Homo sapiens: one gene and its partner. The protein of the gene in region 2 purifies or fractionates together with the protein of the main gene of each other region. This does not show direct contact. Each region holds a gene or a part of one and is shown on either strand. Other genes may lie near its edges.

What was found.
Region 1: the proteins of ANKRD55 (region 2) and MIB1 purify together in Homo sapiens (affinity purification with mass spectrometry; 3 studies listed by BioGRID and IntAct, with this or other methods). This does not show direct contact.

Annotation. Positions count from the first base shown.
Region 1 is NC_000018.10:21,743,683-21,747,438, reverse strand, and holds part of MIB1 (E3 ubiquitin-protein ligase MIB1), read right to left. Parts: intron 1-3,756. UniProt on the Homo sapiens protein: E3 ubiquitin-protein ligase that mediates ubiquitination of Delta receptors, which act as ligands of Notch proteins.
Region 2 is NC_000005.10:56,231,795-56,235,550, forward strand, and holds the start of ANKRD55 (ankyrin repeat domain-containing protein 55), read right to left. Parts: upstream 1,537-3,756; 5' UTR 1,447-1,536; intron 1,153-1,446; 5' UTR 1,120-1,152; coding exon 1,062-1,119; intron 1-1,061.

The sequences.
Region 1 (3,756 bases), on a different chromosome or scaffold from region 2:
CCTATGAGCTTATTAGAAATACTCTCGCAGAATCCCAAACTTACTGAACCAGAATCTGCATTTTAAAAGGTCCCCAGGTGATCTGTGTGCTTTAAGTTTGAGAAGTACTGACACAGGGGTCTACTAGTTGATTTCTTGAAGTCCTCAGCTCAACCAAGCTGCAATCTACAGGGACTATTAAGAACTAGATAGACTTTCATAATTTACAACATTGTTTTAGTGGAGGAAATAAAATAAGAAAGACATTTTACAGAAGCCTTTAAAATAGGTAGGATCTATGAGGAAATAAAGTTTTCCTTGCAGATGTCATTAATAAAAAACATTTTGTGATATTTCATCCTTTCCAGGTGTGGCATCCTGCTCCCCAAACATTGTTCCCTCAAATCCTGTTTTTTCCTACGGCTTTGTGTCCTGACAAATACCCCTTTCTACTGTGGTTCTAGAAACAGATCAGAATAGGGGACTCTATTCTGATAAAGAAAAGCTGAGGATTATTAATTCATTTCATTTTTTTAATCCAGGGTCAGCCCTTTTAAACCTTCAACTGAATACAAAACATCTGAGAAGTTTTTCCACGTATGACTGGAGAGGCATTCTTTGCTAGCGGTCAAAGACAAGGACAAAGAACTACCCCCAAAACAGTTTGAATGAACTATGACCAGAAGCTGGTTTTGAATAAAGCTGATTTTCTATACCTCTAACTCTGTATTATCGACACGAAGAATGACAGAACCTTAACAGGAAATCTACATTCATTTTCTCCATTATCTCTGGTAACAATACAACACTGTAGTCAAGTGAACACAAAGCAAGCATAAATAAAAACACATTTTTCTCCAACTCCTATAAAATCAGTGCCTAGATGATAAAAAGTCAACTATACCTACTTGACTACAGACTTTACAAAATTAGTCCAAACTAATTAAATAACATCCCATATAGTCCCAAAATCTTCTTGCTCACTACAAATGAGCCAAATGAATCTCGAAACAAGACAGACGTTATATCACTCAAACAGATACTAAATGCTCCTCTCTGCAAAGTTTAACTATCCTAGACCATAAATTCAAACATATCATGTGTGTCCTGAAAGAAAAAATAAAGCTGATATGCCAAAATATTAGAGACCCGCATACAACTCCCAGACAAAATCTTCAAAATGTAGTGAGAAAAATCGTATCAGAAAGATTCACAATGATCCAACCACTCCAGAATCCTTAACTCCCAGAAAAGTTGCAAGGAATCTTATGCTGAAGGTTACCCATTTCTTAATTCCCAATCATACTGCAATAAATTTTCTATTCATATAATATAGGTGGAACTAGGGAACAAATGATGAATAATCAAAGGCAACCTCAGTTCTCCCTCTGATAAATATAAGGCTTTTTTTTAAATTAAGTACAAAAATATGACACACACAAAAATATAGAAAGGGCTGGGTGTGGTGGCTCACACTTGTAATCCCAGCACTTTGGGAGGCTGAGGCTATGGATCACTTGAGGTCAGGTGTTCGAGACCAGCCTGGCCAACATGGTGAAACCCCGTCTCTACCAAAAATACAAAAGTTAGTCAGGTGTGGTGGTGCATGCCTGTAATTCCAGCTACTCAGGAGGATGAGACAGGAGAATTGCTTGAACCTGGGGGACGGAGGTTGCAGTGAGCCGAGGTCACACCACTGCATTCCAGCCTGGACCACAGAGGGAGACTGTCTCAAAAAAAATAAAATTTTGTGTGTGTGTGTGTGTGTGTGTGTGTGTGTGTGTTTAACACCTATGCACTCACCATGGGGTAGGTTTAATCACAGAACATTACCAAAATACTTAAATGCCCCTGGTGTACTTCCACCAATCGTGCTCTCCACTCCCTTCACCATAAGGATGTCCCACTCTCTTAAATTTAGTGTTTATCTTACCTTTACGTGGCATACTTTTACCACGCATGTACATATCCCTAAACCAATGAGTCTCAATTGGGAGCAATTTTGCCCCCACTAGGGGACATCTGGCAATGTCTGGAGATATTGTGGGTTGCCACAAGGAGGTGGGGTGCTACTGCTGCTAATGGGTAGAGGCCAGGGATGCCTGCCTACAATGCACAGGACATTCCTATAACAAAAAATTATCCTATCCAATTCAAAATGTCAATAGTGCCAAGGCTGCAAAACCCTACCCTAAAATAGTTTTGTTCCGCACTTTAACAGACCGTAGGTTTTCTTTTGCAACTTACTTTATTTGCTTAACATTCTCTTCTATACAGTACTGCACTATACAAATTCATACAACTTATCCAGTCTCCTGCTAAGGTACATTTAAGTTTTTTCCAATTTTCTGTTTTTACATGCAACACTGCTGTGAACATTCTTTTTTAAATTTTATTTATCTCAAAACCATAGTAACTGCTGTGAACATTCTTATACAAGCTTCTATGTGCTCAAATAGAGATTCTCTCCAGGGCAGTGACTTTTAAAGTGTTATTCTTCAACCTCTAGGGAAATCCTCAAGACCCTTTGAGGGACTTCATGAAGTCAAAAGTATTTTCACAATAATATGTAAGATACAAGTTATCTTTTTCATACTGGCATCACATTGCTGGTACAAAAGCAACAGTTGGTAAAATTCCTGGTGACCTAGCCGAGTTAACGCTATAATTAATGAGACATACGAACACCATGTACCTCCTGGTACGATGCACTAACAAGGGCAAAACATCATTTCTATGATATTCTTGCCGAAAATACATAATCTGAATTTAATCATGAAAAAGCAGCAGAAACACCCAATTTGAGAGATAACAAGATTGTTTTTCATTACTTTGACACTGACTAAAGACTGAGGAACTCACCCAGATTGGAAGAGACCACTAAATGCAACGTGTGATCTTGGATGAGAAAAAGAATACTAGTAGGACACTAATAATAACCACTGCATATAATTTGAATAAATAAAATTTGAATAAGGTGTATAGATTAGTTAATACAGTATTACCGTATTAGTGTTAATTTTCTGGTTTTGATCATTGTACTTGCTAAGATATTAACAGCTGAAGAAGGTGGGTAAAGGGCAAAAGGCAACTCTTACTAGTTTTGTAATTTTTCTGGAAGACTACAATTGTTTCAAAAACAAAAGTTAATTTTTAAAATGTTAATATTATGCAAATAAATATCAAGTACTTAATAAATATTGAGTAATCTTATAGAATGTAATAAAATGTCAGTGAACACTGATTATTAAATATTTTGAAGAAAAAGGAAAACACTGAAAGTAGTATTATAGTCCTGGGGCAAAACAAGAGCCAGGAGCTTACAATTTTGCTCAGTTCTAAAAAAAAAAAAAAAAAAAAAACCCTGAAGAATTTAAAAGGTTGAAATTAAAATATATTTCAACAAGTATTTCATATGAAGGTTGGCTATCCTGCTCTTAAAATGTTTGTTAAAAGACCAAATGAACAAGATAAACCACTACATATAACAAATTAATGTATAAAATTATCTTATTAAACTAAGATTCTAAAACAGTTACTTCTGAAAAACATCTACGTTTATATTAAGATAATAAAACTATTAATATGATAGATACACCCCATACTACAAACATATAGATAACATTAATGTCCCTTCAAAAATCACCGTAGTAAAGAATCTGTTACACTTTACCCTAGATACTTAAATTTCCTCATAAAGCTACAATTACTGATACCAAGAATTCCTCCAAATAAGGGTTGTGGTCAGACTTTAGCTTGAGCTAGCACGACAACAAA
Region 2 (3,756 bases):
ATTTTTGGAGAAACCCCCTGGGCTAAAATAATTCACCCACAAAGCCAGATGTAGCTTGAGGGGTAATAAACATGCTATGGCCTAGAGCAGGAAAAGGGAAAAAAGAATGAAGCAGTACATTTTCTTAATGAGGCTTTTTCAAACCACCATTTCATGTTGTAGCCAAAACAGATAAAATCACCAAAGGAACTTAGGATCTTGAAGAATATTCAGAGACTGTAGAAAGTGGTTTAAATAATAGATATTTAAGAAAAGATTCTAAAAAATATTTATTATGTTTATAAAATGGAAATTTCATGTTTATACTAAAAAAAGATTTACTATTACACATAAGTATTACACGAAGATGTATATAAACACATTGCATATGCAAAATGTATACACATAGACCACATGGCCAAATATGTGATATTATAAGGATAAGTTGATCTCACAGCAACATTTTGATGTGGAAAATTACCTCCACTCCAGAAATTATAAGTAAGGAAGATATACCCTGGCATTGCAAATAATAGCATAGGGATATGTCATTACACAACCTTGGATGAGATAACATATCAACCCGACATAAATACAGGCAACATCTATTCCTGAAAGGAATAAAAAAATGCTTACGAAGATACAGCAATGAGATACTGGGCTAATCGAATGACAAAAAAAATGTGATGTGTTCTTACATTGCTTACCCTAATTTTTAAAAAAGATTTGGAAAAAACAGAATAAAGATGACACTATCTGAAATAGTTGGTGTGCTTGAAATCCAGTTTTTAAAATTTGAAGGTAGGAATACTTCAACAAGATCATAAGCTTATACAACAGATCATAAGCTTATTTTTCTGTTTCAGATGCTTATCAAACTAGAAGTGAACATTTTGAACAGGTTTGTTTTCTAGGTGAAATCCTCTTTCCACATCCTACATAGCAAATACTCATGCACACCCACGCACATGAACACACACACACACACACACACACTTCTCTTTCTCTCCTTACAACTGTAAATCCATACCATGAGACTAAGGATGCTAACAACCAAAGAATGTGTTAAAGCAGCATTTTACCTCTTTGCTGATCAAACACAGAAGGGGTGCTGAAATCCATGGTAGCCTGTCTCATCATTTACCATCAGAATGGCAAAAAGCATCCAGGTCTCTAGAGAGGAGAAAACACCATCTCAAACCTTACTGTCAACATGACAGTCAGAGGCAGCATCGTTTGCCAAGACCTCTGTTTCAGGATTAAATGTGCATCAGAGCTGCAGGTTGTTGTCAAGGCAAGGTGATGAAAATAGGTAAATGCTATTCCTGTAAATACCTGCTAGGAAAAGAGTTACTCTATGGCCTCATTCATCAGCTGTACATGGGCATAATACACCCTCCACCCCCAAATCAATAAACACAATTACTCAAACTCCAAAAAGATAGTAAAATTGTATGGGCCACCTGCCTTGGATCTGGGCTGGAAAAACACAGCAGATCACGGAGCTTCAGCAGCTGGAATGTCGCTTTACACCAACAGAAATCTGAATGGGTGAGTGAGGATTCACAGGGCCAGACAGAGCATGTGCAAAGCTGCCAATGCAGTTCGCATTCGGCTGTGCTTTTGGCGGAGTGAGAACTGCATTTGGGTCATGTGAGCAGAGAGTGCCATCTCAATGGAATAGGATGTAAATATTGTAGCAGGAGGCTGCTGGCCATGTGCTGTGTGGAGTAATTATCCATGTTGGCAGTCTTCTTCACTCCCCTTTCAGCTCCGTTCTCCAATTGACAGGGAGGATGGGGAAAGGCGTCATTTGAAAGGTGACATTTCAAGGCTCGAGTGTCTGTGGTGATAAAATTAAAACAGTCTGCTGTCACAAGGGTGTTTATTGTAGCATTACATGTAGTAAAACCTGAAAAATCACCCGAATGTACCTCATTCAGGGAGCAGCTAAGTAAATGGTAGTAAATTCGTACTCTAGATTTAAAAATCTGACATAAATAAATCTGTGTATTTATCTGGTGACATGTCACTAATCTATTGTTAAATGAAATAAACAAGTTATATATTTCATTTGTTCGTGTTTTAATAAAACCGGAAACCACTCACTGTATACATTATTTTTATATATTCAGACGAACACTGAAAAAGATGTAGAAAGATACGTACTAAACTGCTAATATTGGTTCCCTCAGGCCACTGTGATTAGAGTAGGAGATTTCTAACTTGTTCTGTATCAATCTCTGTATTTTTGGCTTGTTAATAACCAGTATCTATTATCTTGTATTTGTAATAAAAATATGATATACTAAATTCAAACAAAGTTCTATATTCTAGGCACAACCAGATTTTTGGATAAGTCAAATAGCCATATAGTAGATGCTTGTTGAATCTAATAATAAACACCAGCTTCCTTTGCCCTTGGATAGGATGATTCTGAGGCATGGTGTTTTACTCCGTTTGCCATTTCCCTTTCAGGATTAAACTCCTTCAGGGTTAAACTCCACTGCCACCTGTGAGAATAGGTCTAATAACGTTCTTTTTATGGGCTGCTGTTCCCTCCCTGTATTACTTTCCCACGTTCCTACTGATATTTCCTGCACTTCTCAATAAGTTACTTGCATTGGAATCATTGTCTCAGGGTCTGCTTTTACGGAAACCCAAATTAAAATATTTCTCCACAAGAGGGTACATTTCATAAGGGCAGGGTCTTTGTCTACTCTTTCTTTGTCTGCTTTGTCCACTCCATGTCCTTACAGCCTAGCACAGAGAGGGGCACAAAGGAGGTGCTCAGTACATTTCAGTGCATGAGTGAAACTTCACTGAAGAACTTTCCTTGCTCAAGCTGACAACCTGCTCACTGACATTGTAACATTGGAACCCAATTAACCATCCTTCATGGGGTAAGAACTTTCTGACAAGAACTTCTGTAGTCCTTGAAATTTTCTAGTCTAAACAAGAAACCATGTACTTGAGGATTGGTTCTAGGGTTTCTGGAATTGGCTCTCAAATCTGATTAAATTTAAGGATTCTAATAGCTTTATTTCTAGGAGTAAAGAGAGCATTGATAGTCCATGGTGTGAAGTGGTAATAGAGATATGCAAAAAGCTGCACTGAATATTCCTAATTAATCACTGGACACAACAGGCAAGGAGTTGGGTGACTGTGTAGATGATACCCTCAAACATTTTTGGAAACTTAATGAATATGGCTGGTTGCTCCTAATGTCACTGGACAAAGTGATGAAAGAAAAGGATTAGCTCACGGATTCTAATTCCCAGCTCAGGTGCCATATAGATGACCTGGAGGTGTGTATGTGTACCCTGAAGGAGAGTCTTACCTCCTGTAGCCATGAGGCTGAGGATGCTGCAATCAAATGCAGGCTCTCATGCTGCAGCTGCCTGAATTACAATGCAAATTGAACTCCTGAATTACAGCGCAAGTCAAACTCCCAGCTTCACAGGATGTCTGCTGTTAAAGTGAGGACATTGATTGGGAAAGTAGAGGATACTGTAAATTGGATAGAGACATGTGAGAAGACCCTGATGAAGCTGGGGGACACTGAGCATCTAAACTCTGAGGAGTCTTCTTTGCCAGTGGAAGTGGACTCCCAATCCCTAGTAGAAGCAGCCTCCCCATCTCCAGTGGTAGCAGCCTTTTCACCTCAGTCTGAGAAGATTGACTCTGAATTGCCTGAGGAAACTGTATTGGCCTTCCTTGAGGCAGCTGCCGTGCACAACAATGCTGATTCTCTTCAGGAGCCACCACCATTGTTCC